Linked DNA regions of Homo sapiens. The protein of the gene in region 3 purifies or fractionates together with the protein of the main gene of each other region. This does not show direct contact. Each region holds a gene or a part of one and is shown on either strand. Other genes may lie near its edges.

Region 1 (3,500 bases), on a different chromosome or scaffold from region 3:
TTATTCTTTTGAAATGAAGAAAAGTCCTAACCTTTTAGGGGTAGGGGGTGTTAATAATCTTATTTTTGATCCGCAAAGTACAAGCAATTTTTCCTTCTTAAGCCCCTCTTCTCCCAAAATGCTTTAAAAACACAAACACACCTCAAAAATCTCAAGAAATTCATTAGATCAGCATTCTCTTAAAATTGCACCGTTTTTTAACATACACAATACTGCTAAATACTGGTTTAACCTGAGACGAAACAAGAGTTCTGTTATTTACATGGTTTAAACCACAGCTTATTTGTATTCAGAAGTATCCTATTATACAACATATCATATAGTAATCAAGCAAAGCCTAGAAACAGTTCCTAACTTAGAGCTTCAATAAACAAATGTCTAATCCTTCAATTCCTATCTCAACATGTCTCTGGCTACTTGCATGCTTGGGATTAGTGTATTAGATGTCAGTGACTTGGAAGGCCTGCTTTTCTTCAGTTTTTCTAGACAGAACTTTCCAAGTTTCCAGTTAAAGCCCTTATCCCTGGAGCCTCATTGTACTGCAATGTTACCAGGACACAAAGGTTTCTTTTGTCTCACTGCTGCCCTGTTCATTCTTTCCTTTTAATTGAAAACCAAAGGGCATCTCACACTCAACAGCACTTCTCCCCAGATGCTACTTTGGGGGACACTATATGTCTTATTTGCTAGTCTACCAAAATAAAACATAATATCATTCAAGTGAGAAGTGTAATGAATGTATTTCCTTAGAGGAAAAAGCTTGGTGTCTGAAACAACACAATATGGGTATCTGCCTATCTCTACAAACGAACACATATTATTTTGGGGTCATCAGGGTCAGGGAAGGGGGAGTTCAGAATAATCAGCCTCAATCCTACAGTTGAGATTGAGGTATAACTTCCCATGAGCTTCCATCTCCATGTTGCACCTGAATGCCAGTAACAGAACTGGGACTGGAAGCCAGGTCTTTTCCTACCAGTTCTGATGTAAATCAATTCCCAGGGAATCAGGGAATCTGTCCATGTCTTCTCCCATACAACGCTTTTTTTTTTTTTTTTTTTTAAGATAAAGTCTTGCTCTGTCCCCAGCCTGGAGTACAGTGGCGTGACCTTGGCGCACTGCAATCTCCACCTTCCAGGTTCAAGCGATTCTCCTGCCTCAGCCTCCTGAGTAGTTGGGACTACAGGCACAAGCCACCATGCCCGGCTAATTTTTGTATTTTTAGCAGAGACAGGGTTTCACCATTTTGGCCAGGCTGGTCTCAAACTCCTGACCTCAAGCGATCCTCCTGCCTCGGCCTCCCAAAGTGCTGGAATCAAAGGCGTGAGCCACTGTGTCCAGGCCTCCCACGTAACTCTTAAAATGGAATGTGCTGCACATTCTCTGCAAGAAAATACCAACTAGTACATATACACAGTAATGTCGTCCATCTTAGACGTGAAGCCTGTTGGATTACACCAGTGATGTTACTCAACATATAAGCTTGAAATATCCAAATAAGCTTCCTCACATGAAGATAAATGGTCCTATTAATATCTCCTATGAATCATTTATTAATTTATTCACATATTTACTGAGAATCTACTATATGCCAGGCACTGGAGAAATCAGAAGTGACCAAGTCAGATAGTCTTTTTTCTTATGGAGCTCATTTACTTTACATTCTAGCAGGAAAGAGATAAACAAACCAGTAGGCAAATAAATAAAGACAACTTTCAGATAGTGACAAATCTATAAAAAATGATATTACTTGCTGGGTGCGGTGGCTTACGCCTGTAATCCCTGCACTTTGGGATGCTGGAGTGGGCGGATCACCTGAGGTAACGAGTTCGAGACCAGCCTGACCAATATGATGAAACCTCGTCTCTACTAAAAATACAAGAATTAGCTGGGCGTGGTGGCATGCACCTGTAACCCCAGCTACTTGGGAGGCTGAGACAGGAGAATCGCTTGAACCCGGGAGGCGGAGGTTGCAGTGAGACGAGATCGCGCCACTGCAGTCCAGCCTGGGCAACAAGAGAGAAACTCCATCTCAAAAAAAAAAATTGATATTACCGACAGCAATTTTAGGTGGGGTGCTTAGGGAAGGTTTCTAAAAGGGAGAGCTGAGCAGAGGGCTGAGCTGTGAAATGCATCTTGCAAAATCTGAGGGCAGAACATTTTGGGCTGAGGAAACAGCAAGTCTGAGGCCCTGAGATTGACTCAGAAAGCATGGTGAAAGAGAACATAAAGAAGGCCAGCAGGCTGCAGTACAGTCAACATGAGAAAGAGTGGCTTCAAGATGCAAGAAGGAGGCGGGTTGGCCTAAATAATGTAGAACCTTCTACGGCCTGATACAGAGTAAGACTTTAGTCTAAATGTAAGGGGAACCCACTAGACTGTTTCAAATAGAAAAGTGACATGATGCCATGTATGGTTTTTAAAGTTCCCTTTCTTGTCTAAGGAATAGATTATTGAGGATGAGAGCAGAAACAAACCAATTAGATGGTCACAGGAGTCGAGAAGAAAGTCTACTACTACTACAGTAGCAGTAGATACCAACAATTCAAGAGATTTGGAGTACGTTTTGGAAACAGTTCTTGGCCCAGGCACCTGGAGGCATAGGACTACCAGTTACTGGGACTGGGAGGACCAGAAAAAGAAGAGACTTTGGGGAAGGGCAGTGTGATGAGAGTGGGGGTGATGTGGCACAGTATTGAGAATTTTGATTCAGCCAAGTTTCATTTGGGATGTCTATGAAGACATTCAAGTGGATGACCAAAAGGCAACACTGATCTAGAGCAAAGTCATCTTTGCTGCTTTCTCAGCCCTTCTATCAGGACAGGGCATGCTATACCACTAGAGAACATCTTACTAAGAATATAGGAAAGTTGCTAAACATGTTCTTTTAAAACTCAGAGCCCAATTTCTCCCCTGGATGAAGCTGACTGCACTGCCCACCTGTGTCAGAATCTAATCCCAGTACTAGTAGGATTGATGCCTTGAGTTAACCCTAAGAAGGATGTGGACTTTTGACTATAACACTCTTGCACACAACACAAACTCCACAAACCACTACCAGCTTTTCAGAATTACAGGAATATCAGTGTTCAAAGGGACTTGAGAGATCACCAGGTAGAAAACCCTCTTTCTGTTGATGAGGAGACAACATCCATAGATGCTGATGAGAAAATGGACACCTTACAGGTTTTCCTCCAAGTACAAAGGATATTCTGTATTCCTTCAGTTCTTTCAGTTCTTCTTCTCTTCGTTGCTTTTCTATTAGTTCCTGCTGTCGAGAAACCTCATCAAGGAAGTTGGTCTCATCTTCATCTAAGCCTCTTACCATGTTTTCTGAGGAAATAATTAAACAAGGCACACTTAGCAGGCTAAAGGGAAAAATAAGATTTTTCCTTTCCCCTTTTTAAATAAGCAGCAGATTCTTCAGGGGATTAAAAAAAAAAGAACTGGTAAATACCATGGCGTTTGAATAGATAACAGGGCATAAAAAAAAACAAGGC
Region 2 (3,734 bases), about 56 Mb from region 3:
CATGATCTGCCTGCCTCGGCCTCCCAGAGTGCTGGGATTACAGGTGTGAGCCACCATGCCTGGCCTGTTACTAGACTTTTTTTTTTTTGAGACAGAGTCTTGCTCTGTCCCCCAGGCTGGAGTGCAGTGGCAGGATCTCCACTCACTGCAAGCTCCACCTCCTGGGTTCACACCATTCTCCTGCCTCAGCCTCCCAAGTAGCTGGGACTACAGGCACCCGCCACCACACCCGGATAATTTTTTTTGTATTTTTAGTAGAGACGGGGTTTCACCATGTTAGCCAGGATGGTCTTGATCTTCTGACCTCGTGATCCACCCACCTCGGCCTCCCAAAGTGCTGGGATTACAGGCGTGAGCCACTGTGCCTGGCTGTTTTTAGACTTTTAATTCTGTTCCATTGATCTGTATAGATGCCTGTCCTTATGCCAGTACCACACTGTTTTGATTACTGTAGCTTTATAGTAAGTTCTGAAGATTTTATTCCTTGTTTTTGTTCTGTTCCTTCATTATTGACTTGGCTTTTTTGACAGTTTGATTATGACATCTAGGTGAGGCTGGCTCCCTTTTAGTTTATTTTACTTGGAATTCATTGAGCTTCTTGGGTGTAATTTTTTTCATGTCAAATTTGGAAAGTTTTTAGCCATTATTCTTTCAAATATTCTTTCTTCTTTTCTCTTCTGTATGTTGGTATGCTTAATAGTGTCCCTCAGGTTCTGTGACTCTGTTTATTTTTCTTCACTGTTTTTTCCTCCTGTTTCGCAGTTTGGGTAATCTCAATTGACCTGTCTTCAAGTTTGCTTGTTCTTTCTTCTAAATGCTAAAAAGTGGTTTTGAGCCCCTTTCATGAACGCTTATCTTTTCCCCCTTTTACTTTTGAACTCCAGAATTTGTATTTGATTCTTAAAAAAATGGTAATAATAATTTCTATCTCGTTATCAGTATCAATAGTGATACTGATATTTATTGATATTCTCTACTTAAAAGACGTTATTCCCATACTTTCCTTTAGTAATTTTTGCATAGTTTTCTTAGCTCTTTGAGCATATTTAAAATAGGTGATTTAGAGACTGTTTTCTGCTAAGTTCTTCATATGTGGGCTTCCTCAGGGACAGATTTTATTGATTGCTTTCTTTTTCCTATGTATGGGCCATACTTTGTTGTTTCTTTGTCTAATTTTTTTTTTTTTGCTGTTATTGAGAAATGGATTTTTAAATAACACAATGGGGTGACTCAGGAAATCAGATGCTCCTTTCTTCCCATGGTTGCTATTGGTACGTGATATAGTTGTTCTTGTTTAATGACTTTTCTGAACTAATTCTGTAAAGTTTGTATTCTTTATTGTGTCTGACCAGTGAAATCTGTACTTGGTGAACTTAGTGGCCAAGTAATTATTAGATGGCGATTTCCTTAAACTCCTGGGATCAGTAAACACCTGTTTTTGTCGAGGGGCTTCATCTACCTGTTGGAGCATACCTTCATTGCTTGGCCTAACAGTTAAAAACTGCCTTAGCCTTTATTTCCTGCTGATGTTGAGTCAAAGTCAGCCAGAGGTGAGAGCTTAAGGCCTTCTTAGGTTTTTCCTGAGTGTGCAGTGAAGCTCTGTACATTCATGTGTCTTTCTAGATTCCTGGGAAAATGTCAAAGCTTTTCAAAGCCCCCACGGACATTTTATTTCCCACCTTTGCCTTTGGTTTGCCTCAGTTGTTATCTGCCACCTCAGGAGGCTGCAAAGTTAAAACACTTGCCGTATTTTCAACAGACACTCCTGGGTTGGGAGGAAGGCTTTTCTGAGTTTAGCCAGAAACAGTCAGTCAGTCTTGCAAATGAGGTCTTACAGGGAACCATCAGACAGGTCAAATGATGACAGTTCTTTGAGAATGAAGCTTTGAAAGAGCTCTAAGAGCACTGTTTTCTCCAGCGATGGCTGCTACGCTGTACCAGGAATGCGGCCTGCTGAGAGCCTGGAGAGTGGGGATGGGTCTAGGCCAAATTAAAATATCACAGAGCTCACTGTTCTTACTGAGATGTGGTTGTTTTCCTTGAATTAATGCTCCCTGGGTTCCTGCAAACCTTTGGTTAGTTTCCAAAATCCATAAGAAGTTGATACTGACAATTTTTGCCAACTTTTTGGTTGCTTTTATGGAGGAGAGCTTTTTGGAGGCCTGTAGTAACCACCATTTTCACTGACATCCTTTGGATCAGGAATCTCTTAAATCTTTTTTGTTTTCCTGAGGGTTCTTGCTGCCCTTCTTTTTTATCTTGTTATCAAAAATAGTATACTTCATCATAACCTCAGAATTACCCAGATTCATTAATACTGAGTATTGTCTAGAAATCTCTTTCTGCCTGAACTCCACTCTAGACTGGTTATTTCCTGTTCTGCTGTATAGCTACACTCCTGGTATTTTCTTCCTGCGTTTATAGATTAAATGCAGTTTTTGGACTTGAGTTGGATATTCCTCTTTTTCAGTTTTCATCCTCATTTTGTTTTTCTCAAAGTGATATATAATGTAGAATTGTTGTATATCTTAAAATGCATTTATTTTAACTTTTCACTTATTTCTCAGTTTGGGTGTATGTAGAATTCTAGCTTAAAAATAATTTTCCCTTGTTAGGATTGAAAGGGATATCTTCTTACACTCTGTGTAATTGATTCTGGAAGTCTATTCCATCTCTTTGTGAGTAAGCTTTTTCTCCTCCTTGGAACTTTCAGGACCTTTTTAAAAACACCCAGTGTCATAAAATTTCATGAGTCTTTCATTCATTCTGCTTAGCTCTTGGTGGGACTTTTCAATCTGGAGGCATATTTTCCTTTGGCTCTGGAAAATTATCTTATTACTGTCATAATTTCTGGAATGCCAAATTGATTGCCTGAATTGATCTGTGTTTCTACCTTGATTTCTTTGACTTTATCTTCCAGCCTCTTTATTGAAGTTTAATTTTAGCTACTGTATTTTAAATTCTTGTGTTCTTTCTTTTTGGCCTAATTGTTCTATTTTCATATTTTATTCTGGTTATATGGATATAGTGTCTTCTCAGATCTCTGTGAAGACATAAAATAGAAATATTTTTGGATATCTTTTTTCCAAATTAGCTCTGTATTTTTTTTTAACTTGTTTTCATCTGCCTGTTTTTTCTCACAAGATGCAGTCTTCAGTTCTCTAGTTTTTTTTTTTTTTTTTTTTGAGACAGAATTTCACTCCTGTTGCTCAGGCTCCTGTTGCAATGGTGCAGTCTCGGCTCACCGCAACCTCTGCCTCCCAGGTTCAAGCGATTCTCCTGCCTCAGCCTCCGGAGTAGCTGGGGTTACAGGCATACAACACCACGCCTGGCTAATTTTGTATTTTTGGTAGAGACGGGGTTTCTCCATGTTGGTCAGGCTGGTCTCGAACTGTCAACCTTAGGTGATCTGCCTGCCTCGGCCTCCTAAAGTGCTGAGATTACAGGTGTGAGCCACCATGCCCGGTCTTTTTTTTTTTTTTAATACAAAAATATTTTTCTCCCATTCTCTTGAGTGTGGGACCGTATTGATGGGTTTGTCTACTGTGTGTCTGAAACCTGCTCGTCCCACCACCACCGACAGCTGAGTGGATTGACCAGTCAGCTTTGCTTTATAGGACATAGGGTCTTGGCATCCTAATGCTTGAGTGAGTAGGACTTCACTTGACACACAGGCATCCACACTAGGTCCTCAGACTGCTGGTCAGTGTCTTTGGAGCAAGGTCCTCCATTCT
Region 3 (2,879 bases):
TGTCTCACTATGTTGCTCATGGTGATCTCGAACTCCGGGCCTCCCACCTCAGCCTCTAGCATTTTTTTTTTTTTTGTAGAGACGGAGTCTCGCTCTGTTGCCCAAGCTGAAGTGCAGTGGCACGATTTCAGTTCACTGCAACCTCCGCCTCTCCAGTTCAAGCAATTCTCCTTCCTCAGCCTCCCGAGTAGCTGGGACTATGGGTGCACACCGCCACACCTGGCTAATTTCTTTTGTATTTTAGTAGAGACGGGGTTTCACCATGTTGCCCAGGCTGGTCCCGAACTCCTGGGCTCAGGCAATCCACCTGCCTTGGCCTCCCAAAGTGCTAGGATTACAGGTGTGAGCTAGTTGAAATGCTTAGCCTAGCATTTTCAACTTATCACATAATTCTTTTCCAAAATGGCCACCCTGTTTTTGAAAAAAAAGCTTCTACTTGCTTCCTGCCGCTTCCTGCCTCTCTCTCTTAAGCAGCAGAGTTGGTTACATGACCAATCTGAGGCTGACCACATTACTGTTCCTTCCCACAGCCAGTCTATCCAGCACCTCCCTGGGATCTCGCTTTTCTCTCTATTACATTACTGACATGCTCTCTCTAGAGGCACTTGGCCTCTCAGTGGCTAAATCCCAGGGCGTCTTCTGCCCCCTCATTCTCCTGAGCCTGTTAGCGCTTTAATTCTGAAGACACTGATAAGTAATTTATGGTCATTCTAGAAAAATTATGAAACATTGGCAAGCAAAAAATTAATTTTAAAATCATTGGAAATCCCACCATCTACTATTAACATCTTGCTAGATATTCTTCACTGTTGGCTAAACAAACAAATACACATAAATTGTATATTTTTTATTTTTTAGAGATAGGGTCTCAGTGTCACCCAGGCTGGAGTGCAGTGGTGATCACAGCTCACTGCAGCCTTCAACTCCTGGCCTCAAGCAATCCTCCTGTCTCAGCCTCCTGAGTAGTTGGGATTACAGATGTCAGCCACCATGATGGGCAAGTTGTGTATTTTTAAACAAAAAATGGGATGGGGCCAGGTGTGGTGGCTCACACCTGTAATCCCAGCACTTTAGGAGTCTGAGGTGGGAGGATTGCTTAAAGCCATGAGTTCAATATAAGCTTGGGCAACATAGCAAGACCCTGTCTCTAAAAAAAAAAAAAACAAAAAAAACAAAAAAAACAAAAACTTATCTGGGCGTAGTGGCGCATTCCTGTAGTCCTAGCTGCTTGGGAGGTTGAGGCGGGAGGATCTCTTGAGCCCTGGAGTTGAAAGCTGCAGCAAGCTACGATTGTGTCACTGCACTCCAGCTTGGGAAGCAGTGGAGACCATGTCTCAAAAAAGTAATAATAAAAATAAAAAGAGGCTGGGTGCGGTGGCTCACACCTGTAATCCCAGCACTTTGGGAGGCCAAGGTGTGCAGATCACCTGAGGTCAGGAGTTTGAGACCAGCCTGGCCAACATGGTAAAACTCCGTCTCTACTAAAAATACAAAAATTAGCCGGGCATGGTGGTGGGCGCTGTAATCCCATCTTGGCAGGCTGAGGCAGGAGAATCACTTGAACCTGGGAGGCAGAGGTTGCAGTGAGCCGAGATCGCGCCATTGCACTCCAGCCTGGGAGACAGAGCAAGACTCTATCTTGAAAATAAAATAAAAATAAAAATAAAAATAAATGGTACTATGTAAACCATTTCATAAAAGTCTTTTTCACCTAAAAATATGGCATGACTATCTTTTCCATGTCAGTAGTAAATGTATCTTACATTGTCACACCATCAATTAACCCTACCACCCACCCCATTTGGAACTTCCTTCTCATGTGGCTTCTGGGACAGTGTTAGAGGGGTGCACGGCCTGTCTTAGAGGCACCTCTTCATCCCCTGTCTACCACAGGGCCTACTTCTCAGAGTTGCTTTTCAGTCTCTACTTCTGTTTGTTCAACCATGTTCCCAGGTAGAATCTAATTGCCAGCTAGACGTTTCCAATTGAGTGTGGTTTTTGTTTTGTTTTGTTTTGAGACAGAGTCTCTCTCCGTTGCCCAGGCTGGAATGTTGTGGCACGATCTCGGCTCACCGCAACCTCTGCCTCCCAGGCTCAAGCAATTCTCGTGCCTCAGACTCCCGAGTAGCTGGGACTAAAAGCACCCACCACCACACCTGGCTAATTTTTTATTTTTTCTAGAGACAGGGTTTCACCATGTTGTCCAGGCTGATCTCATGCTCCTGGGCTCACGTGATCCACCCACCTTGGTCTCCCAAAGTGCTGGGATTACAGGTGTGAGATATCTTTCTTCCAGAGCCACCTCTGTCTTATACCCCTCTCTTCTACATCTAATCAGTTTTGAGGCCCTATTCATTTTCTTCCCAAATAGCTCCTGTATCCATTCCTTCCCATTCTCGCTGCAGCACCAGGCGCTTGTCTCAAGTGCTGTCATCACTCAACAGCCTCCTGGCGGGCTCCCCTCCTTGGCCTCCTCTGCACAAGGCTCCTGACACATTCTCAGTCACCTCTTGGGGGTTGCCTTCTCCTATTCCAGAACCTGCAGTGACTCTTCCCCAAATCTACACCTCTCTAAGCTTGTGCCCACCTGTACCACCTCATACCTCAGTGATTCCCAAGATGCCTTCTGTGCTTTAGTGAGACCCGTCTTGTCACTGTCCCAGGTATGTGCAAGTTTCGTGCCTATCCCCCTCCTCATCACACAGAATGCCTTCTCTATCCCTACCTAAGTCTTATGTAACCCACGATGCCCTGCTCACATCTTTTTTCTTTTTCTTTGAGACGGAGTCTCGCTCTGTGGCCCAGGCTGGAGTAGGGTGGCACGATCTCAGCTCACTGCAACCTCAGCCTCCCAGGTTCAAGAGAATCTCCTGCCTCAA

What was found.
Region 1: the proteins of FBXO24 (region 3) and PSME3IP1 purify together in Homo sapiens (affinity purification with mass spectrometry; one large-scale study listed by BioGRID and IntAct). This does not show direct contact.
Region 2: the proteins of FBXO24 (region 3) and NUDCD3 purify together in Homo sapiens (affinity purification with a luminescence readout; one large-scale study listed by IntAct). This does not show direct contact.

What each region holds. Positions count from the first base shown.
Region 1 is NC_000016.10:57,169,040-57,172,539, forward strand, and holds part of PSME3IP1 (PSME3-interacting protein), read right to left. Parts: intron 3,334-3,500; coding exon 3,212-3,333; intron 1-3,211. UniProt on the Homo sapiens protein: Promotes the association of the proteasome activator complex subunit PSME3 with the 20S proteasome and regulates its activity.
Region 2 is NC_000007.14:44,407,018-44,410,751, reverse strand, and holds part of NUDCD3 (nudC domain-containing protein 3), read left to right. Parts: intron 1-3,734.
Region 3 is NC_000007.14:100,596,178-100,599,056, reverse strand, and holds part of FBXO24 (F-box only protein 24), read right to left. Parts: intron 1-2,879. UniProt on the Homo sapiens protein: Substrate-recognition component of the SCF (SKP1-CUL1-F-box protein)-type E3 ubiquitin ligase complex.